2 separate regions of the Homo sapiens genome follow, and region 2 is linked to region 1. The links come from fine-mapping of genetic effects on gene expression. Tissue or cell type: whole blood. Region 1 holds a variant in brackets; the other region holds the start of a gene. All regions are shown on one strand. Distances are between the middles of the regions.

Evidence for each region. PIP is the estimated chance that this variant, and not a neighbour inherited with it, causes the effect.
Region 2: it holds the start of ADI1, and the variant in region 1 is fine-mapped to the expression of ADI1 in whole blood (TOPMed, PIP 0.97). The same link has a PIP of 0.9 or more in blood mononuclear cells.

Annotation. Positions count from the first base shown.
Region 1 is chr2:3,491,280-3,498,242 of GRCh38, forward strand. It overlaps ADI1 (acireductone dioxygenase 1), which reads right to left. Exons shown (of 4, transcript NM_018269.4): 4 at 6,087-6,963. Among named protein-coding and RNA genes, the nearest start is that of TRAPPC12-AS1, 12 kb to the left of the region's middle. The variant C/A (reference allele first, on the strand shown) is at 2,661.
Region 2 is chr2:3,516,811-3,523,773 of GRCh38, forward strand. ADI1 (acireductone dioxygenase 1) reads right to left here and starts at 2,721. Exons shown (of 4, transcript NM_018269.4): 1 at 2,558-2,721. The coding sequence starts at 2,677. LOC124907725 (a long non-coding RNA gene) reads left to right here and starts at 2,736. Exons shown (of 2, transcript XR_007086195.1): 1 at 2,736-3,146; 2 at 6,096-6,963. RefSeq lists silencers at 1,628-1,827, 2,308-2,367, 2,448-2,767, 2,838-2,967 and enhancers at 2,387-2,908, 2,909-3,429.

The DNA of each region.
Region 1 (6,963 bases):
CCTATCATGTGCTGATCTGAACGTTTAATTTTCAGAAAGGAGAAAGTCTCCTCCAAGTTCTTCAGGAAATTCATCCCAATATTCATCAGATGCTTTTAAGGAACACCAGAAAAAACTCCAGGTCTGCCCTGGGGATAGCTCTGAACCCCCTGTGTGGTTTAACACACACAGAACTTCCCGTTGCACTGCTGACAGGTACCACGTGGGAAAGAGCTCACTGGGGTCAGCAAAGCTGGGGAAGCAAAGCTAAGCACAGCCCCGAGGCCTCCAGCTGCTCCCTGCACGACGGCTCTCCCCAAGAGGGACTCAGACTCCCAACCCATAATAGAACCCTTTCAATGCATGGCTTCACAGACTAGCTTTCCTCAGAGCATGCATTGTAAAGACACCAGCCTGGAGCGTCAGTTGGGAGTTTATCATCCAAAGACCATTAGAGGAGCAAAAATCCCCACCTGTCACCCAGCTCCAAGAGTCAGAGACCCCCAAGTTGCAAGGAACAGCAAAGGAGCCCCACGCCACAGGCCACTCGGCCACCTCCCTTCCGTCTCCAAGGGGGTCTGAAGACCTCAGGATGGTGCAAGCCCCAGGGAGGCCCCGGAGAGCCTTTGTTTCCCCTTTCGGTGACTGAGCCAGCCCTGCTGTCAGCATCCCTGACGGGTCAGGCCATCCTAGGGCCCTCGCTGGCCAGGTGGCCCTGCACACACATGCTCCCAGGTGGCACCCGGGGCCAGAGATCCCCTAATGAATTTCTTGCTGCACATAGGCTGAGTCCAGGGACTGTACATGCTCTCCTGCATCTTTGCTGGGAGCTCCATCTCTGCTGGGAGCACCATGCTATATCTGCTGTGTGTCTGTGACCCTCATCTGTGACACCCTGGTTCCAGACTTTATTTTCGGTCTCAACACACATGTAATAAGAGATGTGTGCAAAGGGACTTTCAGGATAAACTGGCTCCACCACCCTATCCCTTCGCCAGCGCCTGGCCCAGTGTCCAGCACACAGGAGGCAAGCATTTCTCAGATGTGGGATGCATGGCGCATCCCAGCGTCTTCTTTGTCAGAGAATGAGGGAGAAAAGAAACCACCAGAGTCTCCTGAAGGTGTTGCTGGAAAGAGCCCAGCTCACTGGCCGTGCACCTGCAGGCCGCTGGCCTCAGCACAGCCCCATCCCTAGAGTTCTCCCACGCCGCTGACAACAGGCGCTCCATCCATGGCCCGTGAAGTGCCCACGGGCTGCAGGTCTTCCCTTGAGATTCAGAAAGTACCTGCCGCTCAGCCCCTGTACACACCTGTCATGCCTCTCGGGCTCAAGTGATCCTCCCACCTCAGCACCTCAGTATCTGGGACCACAGGTGCCTACCACCCTGCTCGGCTAATTTTTGTATTTTTAGTAGAGATGGCGTTTCACCATGTTAGCCAGGCTGGTCTCAAACTCCTCAAGTGATCCTCCTGCCTCGGCCTCCTGAAGTGCTGGGATTACAGGCGTAAGCCACCGCGCCCGTCCTTTTTGTAATTAGGTTTTCACTGCATAAATCATAAAACGATTACAGGTCTCCAGAAACTGCTGCCTGATACACTTTCCAAAGTAAACAGCTTTTGGAAAAATGGCTGTTTTTAGATCACATCTAAATGTCGCATTCTTGGTCTGTGTGACTAGAACCAGACTCCAGCCATCCACCCGCCCACCTGGGGTATCACACACCAGGCTCTGGGAACGCGCAAGAAGCCGGCATGCTGGGAAGTTACTCATAGCTCCTGGGGTCACCCTCCCGCCCCATGCCCATCCGGATGAGATGTTTTCGTGAGTTGCGTAACTCACAGCCACCCGGTAACACGATCGACCAACAGAGGCCTCACTCTCGGGAAACCGAGGAGCCCGGCCGAGGCAGGGGAGCCCATCTTAGTTGTCAGAGCTGCGTCATGAGAACAAAATGTCTGAAGCTGCCAACTTCACCACAGAACTAGGGAAAACACCTCCATCAATAGAACCAGACGATCTCCTTGTGGACACGCAGGAAAACGTCTGCAGTGGTTACCTCACACGCCCCTCCTTGGGGGACAGGCAGGGAAAGAAAGGTCATGGAGCCCACAGTGGCTCATTTACATCCCTCAGTTCGTAACCACCAGCCTCTACAGGCTCTCTGAAGAGCTCGCAGAAGCACACGTGCACACACAGGCACGCAGGTCCACACGCATGCACACAAGTCCAACCACATGCATGACGATGTAAGCGCAGAAATGAGACCCCCTCCATCTCGGATTGGGTTTAATCTCCTGCAAATCAGCAAATCAGCAGCCACTCTGTGCAGTCAGGTGCCCACTGCAGCCCGGTTTGCCTTTCTAAATTTCATCTTAATTTAAGGAGGTAAAGAATGAAGTCCACACTCCACAGGATAACTACTTCTAAGGAGCTGGAAAGCTGTCTGGCTTATTGACACAAATTTAAGAAGGAATATTTCCTCCAAAGTCTTGGGTGAACCACAGCAGCTTGGGCAGTGTGGACGTCTGGCGTCCTGAGCTTGTGCTGGGCTGGAAGGAGAGCGGGGGAGTTTGTAAGGCAGGTTGCAGTGGTGTGGGCGGGAGACAGGGGTGGCGTTCACAGTGAGAGACGGCCAGGGGAGGCCCCTAGGAAGAATCCGCCCATCACAGTGGACGGAAGC[C/A]ACGATTGGACGTGAGGCTTAATGTGAGCTCTGTGTACAAACAAAGCAACCAGCTCATTCTGTAGACCAGTATTAAACATGCTTATATTTTAAAATACAATTTTGATGCAAGAATTGAATTTAGTAGCTATATTTTCTAATCAAACATTAGAATATGTGGTCTGTACATATACGGCCAGAGGACAGAATGTCAGAAATGGGGACTGCAGGAAATAAACTGAGCTACGCAGTCACTGTGAGCCTAGCTCCTCCCTGCTTCCACCTAGTTCCAGTCCGATGAGGAGTGAGTCTCTCTTCGTCCTTCCCTTCTGTAAGAGGTCAATTTAGGCTTTTTTAAAATGGAGAGTTCAGGGTCATGAGCTGATAGCGGAGGCCTCTTTATCGTCATTTTTAATCAGCTCACACACAGAGACCATCACTGGGGCCCTGGCTAAGGAGGGGCATCTGCTGACAGTCGCTGCTCAGAGGCCAGCGGAGCGTCTCACCGGGCTCTCCATTCTTCCTTCTACACTTGAATGATAAGGATCGCAAATTTAAAGTAAAATCTTGAGCCCCCCAACTGACTGAATGGAACCCGTTGGCCAACCTTAAAAAACGAGTTCCCAGCCGGGGCGCAGTGGCTCAAGCCTGTAATCCCAGCACTTTGGGAGGCCAAGGCGGGCAGATAATGAGGTCAGGAGATCGAGACCAACCTGTCCAACACAGTGAAACCCCGTCTCTAATAAAAATACAAAAAATTAGCCGGGCGTGGTGGCAGACGCCTGTAATCCCAGCTACTCGGGAGGCTGAGGCAGGAGAATGGCGTGAACCTGGGAGGTGGAGCTTGCAGTGAGCCAAGATCGCGCCACTACACTCCAGCCTGGGTGACAGAGCGAGACTCCGTCTCAAAAAAAAAAAAAAAAAAAAAAATGAGTTCCCAGGCACGATGGACGGGAGGTCAGACACACCCCACTATACCCCCTCCCTTTTGGGATTTAGACACAACTGGCCAGCATTCATGTTAAAATAGAGATGGTGAGACCAGAGAACAGACTGTGGCAATAAGACACAAATCACACACAGGACCTAAGGCCTGGCCAGGCTACAGCGAAGTCTCGCACCCTGAACCTAAATAAGAAACTCTGTCCTCACCACCACCAAGGTTTTCTTCTCCAGCAGCTAAACCAGCGTTGGCCTTGAGATGAGCAAGATGAAAACAAGTCGTAGTTTATCCACCACCCGATGCTGGCTAACTGGCCCTGTTCCACCAGCCGTAACTACAGCTTTGATGGAACAAGAGACCGATTTCAGTAACTTCCTCTGGACAAGAATAAGCCCATGGATGGGCTCTGGCCGGCTGATAGAGGCTGAGCACTGGGAGCCTTCATGTCCCTGTTTCACCTTTAGAAGTGCAGAGCCTGCCTGGGATGCACGTAGATGTTAAGTCTCCTCTCCAAGGTGAACATGGGTTGTATGTAAGTGGATGTTTGTTCAATACACATGCGTCAGGACCACTTCATGAATATTCACAGCTCCTCCTGTAACCTGTTGAATATGTATGATCCTCCAGCCCATTCAGCATAAAGCTCCTGCCCCTTCTCCTCCAAGATGCCTGTCTGCGGTCTCTGCGGGAGGCTGTGCTTCCCAGCCTGCGGGATGCCACCTTGCAGAGTGTAACTCTTTACAAGAAATAATGTCTTTAGGTGGGCATGGTGGCTCACACCTGTAATCCCAACACTTTGGGAGGCCCAGGCGGATGGATCACCCAAGGTCAGGAGTTCGAGACCAGCCTGGCAACATGGTGAAACCCCATCTCCACTGAAAATACAAAAAAAATTAGCCGGGTGTGGTGGTGCACGCCTGTAATCCCAGCTACTCGGGAGGCTGAGGCAGGAGAATCGCTTGAACCCAGGAGGCAGAGGTTGCAGTGAGCCAAGATCACACCCCTCCACTCCAGCCTGGGCGACGAGAATGAAACTCCATCTCAAAAAAAAAGAAAAGAAAAAGAAAGAATGTCTCCTCTTCTAAATGTATAGATTGTGTCATCTTTTAGTTAACAAGATGAAGAGATGGATGGCAAGAAGAGAAATAAAAATCAGAAAGGAGATGATCCTATTCACTTTTCGGAAGTGAGGACAAAACCAAATAGGGAAATGAGCCGCCGCAGGAATGAAGAAGCCTGTAACAGCTATTCCAAACCGGGAGAGCGTCCTGGGGCCAGGACTTCATTGGGATAAGATGTTGAATCTGGAACAAGATAGAACAAGGCTGGACATTTCCTGGATTATCCACGCCTACTCCTTAGAAACAAGCGTGAAGTCCCCACAATGCGAGCAGGCCTCTCACCAGGTTGCCTGTGCTGTCTGCAGTGCGGTATCTACCTCGAGTAGGAAGACGGCAGGAAAAATCAAAGTGTCTTGAAAATGCCAACACATTAACCAGCTTGAAGCCATACTCAAGTGCGATAATTCATATTCTGATTTATTAATATCCCAGTCATAAACCCCATGGCAATAAATACATCTGTGCCTGTAAAAAGAGGGCACACTTGAAAAATAACACATGTCCAGGAATATCTTACTCAGCAAGCAGGCAGAGCCTGCTCTAAATTGACGAACTTGGACACAGTGAAAACCAACAGCTGTCCCGCTTGGGAAACTAACAGTTGGGCTCCTTGGAAAAAATACCTGATTTAGAATCTAACGAATGTGTTTATAAAGGACCCATCTTCTTTTTTTTGTTTTTTGAGACAGAGTCTCGCTCTGCTGCCCAGGCTGGACTGCAATGGCAAGATCTCAGCTCACTGCAACCTCCGCCTCCTGGGTTCAAGCAATTCTCCCACCTCAGCCTCCTGAGTAGCTGGGATTACAGGCACCCGCCATCATGGCCAGGCTGGTCTTGAACCTCTGACCTCAGGTGATCCGCCCACCTCGGCCTCCCAAAGTGCTGGGATTATAGGCGTGAGCCACCGCGCCCAGCCAAGGATCCGTCTTCTCTAACATTCGGCTTGAAGAGAGACCCCCCCACTACTTTACAGTGATGCCTTCGGGAAGAACAGCCTTTTACCTCCCTAGGTTTTCTCCCCGCCTAGAGTTCTGTTTCTTACTACATTACATTTCCGCTCGCTTAGTGTTTTTCAACCCTCGAGCTCTCCTCAAACCGTTCCATTGTTTAAGATACTAACAAGGGGCTGCCCTGACCCAGGAGACAGTGTAAGTGTAGGGATCAGGGAACAGAAGCAGGAACGCAAGACGCCGGATACAAACGTGAACATGCTGCAGGATTCCACGTGCATCAAATTCTAGAAAAGCCAAAACCCACCCACATAGGTTGCTTAGGATGGGGTGGGGGGACTAAGAAGGGGCATGAGAACCTTCTTTGGGTGATGAAAATGTCCTATGTTGTTCTGCCTGAGGTCATGCTGCATTTGTCAAAATTCAAAAACACTGAAAATGAGTACATTTTATTGTATATAAATGACACCTCAATAAAAACGAAAGATGTGAGCAACATCCTGGGAAAAGAAAATGTGATTTCACCTTAAGTGCTTTAGCAGAATTCTATTATATGCCTCAGCTCTTACTCTTTCTTCTTTTTTGAGACAGAGTCTCGCTCTGTCACCCAGGCTGGAGTGCAGTGGCCACAATCACAGCTCACTGCAGCCTCGACCTCCCAGGCTCTAAGAATCCTCCCACCTTAGCCTCCTGAGTAGCTGAGATTACAGGCATGAGCCACTGTGCCCAGGAACTTACTCTTGCCTGTAAAAATACAGCTCTGAAGTGAAGAAATCCCAGGCGCCACATCAAGGAGGCGAAACTAGAGTCCGCAGGAGGCCAGCCCCGCACGAGGAGTTTCAAACACTAAGGATCCTGACAGGGAAAAGTTATATGAAGCAAGAAAGGCAATTTAAAGCGATAGTTTATCATATGAATGTTTCGTTCTTAAAAATGAACAAGCTCTATTTATAATGCCCATTTAGAAATGAATCCATTAAAAAAAATCAGTAGATCAGCACTTATTTTAATTACTGAGATAGAGTCACACTTGACAGAAGCAAGCCCTGCGGTATATGGCATCATCACACCACCGGTGGGTATTTTAATCCTAAAACTGAGACAGAGTTTACTTAAACATTTAAGGCTTGAGTTTCCTCTGTACAGTGTGGAGGTGATTAAGAAAATTAATCCTAACATGAAGATTTTTCATCCAGTTAAAAAAAGAAATACTTTAAAAACGACCTGCCCTTCCAAAACATGAAGTTAACTTGGAGTTTTTCTGTGATATGACAAACTAGGCATAATCCTATCTCGGAATTGTTGAGTAG
Region 2 (6,963 bases), 26 kb after region 1:
ATTAAACAGATACACAAACATGTCCACATGTGTTACCTCTGTTAAAAATTATGGGAGATGTTACATATATATAATGTTAATATGGGGTGTGTGTGTGGCTTTTTTGTTTTTTGGGTTTTTTTAGAGATGAGGTCTCAAACTTCTGGCTTCAGGCAATCTGCCGCCTCAGCCTCCCAAAGTGCTGGGATGACAGAAGCCACCATGCCTGGCCCAGGAGAGGTCACTGTTTTGGACTGAGCCCCTGCACTAGGCCCCAGGATGAGACCAAACCAAAATGCAGCCACTCATGCCATATGCCACTTGATCAAACTAAAACTTTAAAGAAGGAGGTGCATCTCAAACAGACCAGCTTTTCCTGCGATCAGAAGATTCCAGTCTTCCTGAGTCAGAATAATAAGGAAGTCGCTTCTGCTTTAACCCTTAGGAAAAAAGTAACCTAATGTAACTTGACGTTAACCAATCAGCTTTTCTACCTATTGTTCTGTTTCTTTGTTGCCGCCCTACAAAACCCACTGTTGTGCTATTACCCTATCGAGCTCTTATTCTATTTTGTAGAACGGAGGTTGCCCTATTCACAAATCAAGAATAAAAGCTAATTAGATCTTTAACTAAATTTGTTGTAATTTTGTCTTCCAACAGCACTGATCCAGAATGGATATTAAGAAAGCATATAGGCCGGGTGCGGTGGTTCGTGTCTATAATGCCAGCACTTTGGGAGGCCGAAGTGGGTGGATCACCTGAGGTCAGCAGTTCAAGATCAGCCTGACCAACATGGAGAAACCCTGTCTCTACTAAAAATACAAAATTAGCCCGGCATGGTGCTGTGCACCTTGTAATCCCAGCTACTCGGGAGGCTGACACATGAGAATGGCTTGAACTCGGGAAGATGAGGTTGCGGTGAGCCGAGATCATGCCACTGCACTCCAGCCTGGGCAAAAAGAGCAAAAAAAAAAAAGAAAGGAAGAATATAAAAACACACAGGACATTAAAACCACAGAGTAAACATGATTTAATTTTGATAGCCCTGACTCAGAGCAGAACTAGACGGTAGGAAAAACTATGTTTGAGCCCATGTAATAATCTAAAAGATGTCTATTAAAATAAATCTTATTTTATTCTTTGAATACATTAAGAAGCTGACCTGTAATCTCACTCTTGTTCTTGTTCTTAAAACCGTCAAATGCACAATGAAACTCCCCAAGTGTATTAATTTGAACCCTCTGGTTGTTTGGATTGTGGATAAACATAATAAGTCAAAATTTATTCTCCTCTCATTAATGGAAAACTATAAACCACTTGATTGCTTTGAAGAAGTACCCTCCAGCAAGGTAAGTGTTAAACCTTATCCTAGGAAAAGACAAATACTATGTAAACATTAACATGCATGCCCTGTTTCGCACTGGTATGCCAATTGTCACTTCCCTCTTCTGTTATTTAGGATAGAACAAGATGATATCCAAATAGATTATGCTGGAATATTCTATAATCCTTTCCCAAGGGAAAAAGTGTGGTGTCCAGGTAACCCTGTGTATTTCATTTAAATCACATGAATGAAGATTAGATCCAGTCACCCCTCAGCCTATCCCTGAGGCCTACCCTGGCCCTCTCTTTTGCAGTAAACCTTTGTTACTGCAAAACCATTTGCAAATAAACAAGGTGAGCGGATCTGGACTGGTGCTGTGCAAGCAACGGGACACCGGTGCAAAGCCTAGCCCCGCCTTGCAAAGCTAGCGTTACAGAGGCAGGGCTGACACCGGGCCCAGCCGGGACCCAAGCCAGCTCCACCGCCCACTGGAGACGCCCCCACCCCACCACCGAGCGCTACCCCCCGGGGATCCCCGACAGACCGCGGCAGGACCCCGCCTCGATCTGCTGGCGCCCGGTCCCTCCCCCAGGACACTTTCAAGCGGAGTCCCCCTTCCTCCGATAGAAGAAACCCCTGGGCCTTTGACCGAGGTTAGCCAGGCAGGCAGGGCGTCGGACAAGCCCAACGAGCCCACGAACTCGCAGCCCGCCTCCGGCGAATCTTGCAGCCCTGCCGGCCGACCCTTCAGGTCGCTGCCAATCCCGGAGCTGCGCGTGCGCAGCGAGTCCCGGCTGCGAGGCCCCTGACTCGCCAACTCTGCTGCTGAGCATGCGCAGCACACCCCAGGCAACAGAAACGGACCGCCGACCCCCACCAGCCCCGCTGCTGAGCATGCGCAGCCCACCCCAGGCGCCGGAAGCCGACCGCCAACCCCGTAAACTTCGCTGCTGAGCATGCGCAGCACACCACAGGCGCTGGGGGCTGACCGCCGACCCCTCAACGCCGCTGCTGAGCATGCGCAGCACACCCAGGCGCCGCGCAGGAGGCCCTGACCACCCAGCCCCACTGCTGAGCATGCGCAGCCCACCCCAGGCACCGGGAGCCGCCACGAACCCCCAAATCCCGCTGCTGAGCATGCGCAGCATGCCGCGGCTCCCAGGCCGCTGCCCGGCACCTGGAGGAGGCTGGGCTGTGCGCGGCGTTTGGGGGTCGGCGTCGCCCGCACGCTCTGCGAGGCTTGGGCTCGCGTACCTTCCAGTAGAGCACCCCGAGCCGCCGCAGCTGCTCCAGGCCCACTGGGCGGCCGGGGTCGGGGCGGTGGGGTTGCCGCGGGTCGCCCGGGGCGTCGTCCATATACCAGGCCTGCACCATGACGCGCAGTGCGGGTGCCGTGTTCGAACCCAGGGGCCGCGCTCGGAGCCCGTCGGCCGCGCTTTATCTTATAGGGAGGCGTGGACGCGCATGGGAGCCGGGATTGGGCGGCTGGTTGGAGGCAGGGCCGGCGCGGGGGAGGCCCCACGGCTCCGCTGTTTTCGGAAGCAAAGGCATTCAAGCCCCGACCCTGTCCTGGGCACCCTCGGACCTGCCTGAGGCCCGCGGCCCGGGGCCAGCCGTTCGCCAGACGCGCCGGGCAGGTGAAGCTCACCGTAGGCATCGCACGTGCCTTGTGTGTGCTGCCGCGGTCTCCCTGCACCTTCAGAGCAATCTTGTGAGGCAAACGACGTTAAACGTGTTTAGAGTATGGAAAGCAAATGCAAAAAAAAAAAAAAAAGAATAAGGATTTTGTTAAGCTCATGCAGTCCATATGGGCACAGTTGAGACTTCACAGCTCGGATCCCAGGTGAGACATTGTCCTCCACCTCCCCGCTCGCCAGACTTTTGCAGTGTCGGCATTCTGCAGTGCTACCCTGTACTTTTTAAACTTCCTCTTGTTTCCTCTTTTCATCGTTTCTCCCTTCCCCATACACTGTAATGTGCTAGTCTTAGAATAAAAACAAGCTTCCCCTATCCCATTCTGAATTTTTCAATGTAGCTAATAAAGTCCAGCCGCTTGACCATCCTAGATGTCTTTTCAAACCAACGAGTTGAAAAAGATCAGATTATCTCAGCCATTCCCTCAGTCTCTTTAACAAATAACGATAAAGCAGACAGGATTTAAATGAGACTGCTGTAAGAGCACAACCCCAATGCATGCAATTGACTCTTGAACTTCCAGAAATATTGCAAGAAAAATACACACTTATTTCATTTCTGTTCCCTTGCTCTAATGGCTTTGCAAATACATCCTCCTTAGAGAGCCTACCTCTCCACCTCTTCACTTGACCAGTTACTACTCATCCTTCAAGAACACACCTTAGACGCCATTGCCCATTTTTCTGCAGCACTCATGACAAACCTTCATGCAAGAATCTAATGGCAATCTCGCACCTCGCATTTTCTCCTTAAGCCACTGCAATAAGGCTTCGCTTCTCACCACTGGGGAACTGCTAATGACTGCCATATTGCCAGATCCAATCATGGCACTTCTGTTCTTACCAGCAACATTCGTCACAGTTGCCCACGCCCTTCTTGAAACATTTTCTCATTTTCCTTCATGAGGGCATCTTGGCTGCTCCTTCCCAGGCCCCTCCTAGCTCCTGCTCCTCTAACCACTGGTTAGTGGAGCGTTCCAGACTCTCCTCGTCCTGTTCCTATCCACTCACTCCAGGCGACTTTCCATGCTGTGCTGCCGGCTCCTGCAGCCACATCTCCAACCTGGACCTCATTCCAGAACCTCAGGCTTGAGTATCCAGTTGGTGTTGTCACATACATGGCTAATCAGTGTGTCAAACCTAACATGGCCAAAACAACTGATTCCCCACACACACCCCCAAACATGCTTCTCCCTAACCTTTCCCGTCTCAGTGAACGGCAGCACTGACTGCCCAGTGGCTTAATAAAAAAATCTAGGTGTACTCTCAGTTTTGCTTTTCCTCACCCTCAAGATCCAATCCAATCTATCAGCAAGTCATGTTGCTTTGACCTTCGAAACACACCGCAAATCCATTCACTTCTCTCCAGCCCAACTCTTTCTGCAGTCTTTTCTTGCCTGATGGAATTGACTACTGAAATTCCCCCTCCTCACACCGCTTCCATTTTTGCCCCAGTGCAATCCATTCTATGCACAGCACCCAGAGTGACCTTTTAAAAATAGGAGCCAGATGCCAGGCACTGTGGCTCACGCCTGTAATTCCAGCACTTCGGGAGCCCAAAGAGGGTAGATCACTTGACCAGCCGAGGCAACATGGTGAAACCCCGTCTCTACTAAAAGTACAAAAATTAGCTGGCCGTGGTGGTTTGCACCGCTAGTCCCAGCTACTCTGCAGGCTGAGACAGGAGGATTGCTTGAGCCTGGGAGTCTGAAGTTGCAGTGAGTTGAGATTGTACCACTGCACTGTAGCCTGGGTGACAGAGCAAGACTCTGTCTCAAAAAACAAACAAACAAAAAAACATGGAATCCAGTCAAGCCCCTTTTCTGCTTCAACCCTCCTTTCTATAGCCTCGGCCTGACCACCTCACAGCCCATCGCCCTCCTTTCTTGTTCTCTGTCCTCCAGATACTTTGGCCTTTCAGTGTATTTGAGTCATATGCTCCTCCTTCCTTTGGGCCCTTCACCCATGCAGTTTTTCCACTGAAAATGCTCTTCCTTCCTCCAAGTACTTTTCTCCTATACAAAATTCTAATTTCAGCTTAACTATCCCTTTCGTAGAGAAGCCTTCTCTGACCACTCCCTAGACAACTAGATGGGCTCTCCGTGTGAAACACTGCCATGGTGCTAGCTTAGAGTTTGTAAGGACATGTTGACTTGATGTCTTTTCACCAAAGGACTGACCACTCCATGTGTTGTTTGGTACTTGCTGAATGAATGGATTTGTCTGTATTGCTGAGTGCCGCATATACCTTGAGGTCAGAGAATGTGTCTTATTAGTCCTTCAGTGCTTGGTACATAGTAGACAATTTTTTTAAAAGTTTGTTGAATGAAGGGATAGGATGAGGAACACTCCAAATAGTCTTTACTGTCTTACTGTAACTGCACTCCTATCTCATATCTAATGCTTCTCATTTACTAGAAAATAGTAGTACTAGGCTGGGTGCTGTGGCTCATGCCTGTAATCCCAACACTTTGGGAGGCCAAGGTGGGAGGATCACTTGAGGCCAGGAGTTCCAGATCAGCCTGGGCAATACAGCAAGACCCCATCTCTACAAAAAATATTTTTATTAAAAAGAAAATAGTAATTGTGACAATAATAATAGTAGTGTGTGCTGGGTAACATTTTAAAGATTTGATGCATATTATTATTTTTACTCCTCATGATTACACTGTGAAGTTGGTATGACTTATTATCCACATTTTAAAGATGAGACATGGGAGGCTGAGGCAGGAGGACTGCTTGAGCCCAGGAGTTTGAGACCAGTCTGGGCAACACAGCAAGACCCCATATCACTTAAAAACAAATGAGACAACTAGGACACAAACAGGTGAAGTAACTTATGGTCACACAACCAGAAGTGACAAAGCTGGTATTTGAGCTTGGGGAGCCCAGCCCAACAGCCTGTACACATAACTGCTAAAATCGAGTACAAGAAGTAATGATGTGGGTTTCATCCCATCGTAGAATAAACTTCATCTTGAAATTGGAAGAGTGCTTCCGGTTCCCCTCCCACCCCCAGGCTGCGGCAGCCCCACACCATTATGTATCTACCATTTGTCAGCCTCTGTCTTCAGTAGCTGTTCCTTTTTTCCTATTAGGTATGGGGGAAACAGTTTTATGCCATAAAAAACATACTTTAGAAAAGCAAGATGATGGAGAGGCTCTGAGGAATTGCCAAGGCAGCCCAGCACTTGCTGCTGGCAGGAGTTCAAGCGGGCAGAATCAGATGAGAACAGCACTCATTACTTCATACGGACATTGCCGGCCCATGGGATTCCTCCTTTGAAGAGGAATCTTTGGAACTTGAACTGTCTCTTCCAGAAGAATAGCCAGCAGCAGCCCAAAAATATGTTTCATGACCAGAATTTATCACCCCGATGTAAGACACTTGGGAAGAATCTGTTTAGATGTTTTGAAAGACAGATGGTCGCCATCGCCGCAGACCTGCGCAGACTGTTATCCGTCTGGGCTTTGTGATATGCTCCCAACCCAGGGGCGCGTTAACAAACCATATAGGGATACAGTAGAGCCACAGAAGAACAGGAAGATCCAAACTGCTGGAATGTGGAACGCAGATAAGGCTCTATAGACGGGCAGCAAGTTTTCTCTGGAAAAGGCCAGATAGTAAATCGTTTAGGTTTTGTAGATCGAGTCAAAATTGAGGATAGTATGTAGGTATTTATACAACAACCACATTACAGCATAAAAACCATTCTTAGTTCATGGAACATACAAAAACAGGCAGCAGACTGAATCTGGCTCATAGCCTGGAGTTTGCCAATGCCTGCCATGCACTATTAATAATAGTTAATTTTTATCTGATGATCAAGTGTACTTTACTTCTGGCCTGTGGAAAGAACTGCCAAGAGTCGGAGATGTTTACACTCTGCAAGCTAAGAAATTAGCCTGTCCCAGATTCATGGGTGTTAACAGAAGTCAAGAGATTATCGGCTCAGAGATAAAACA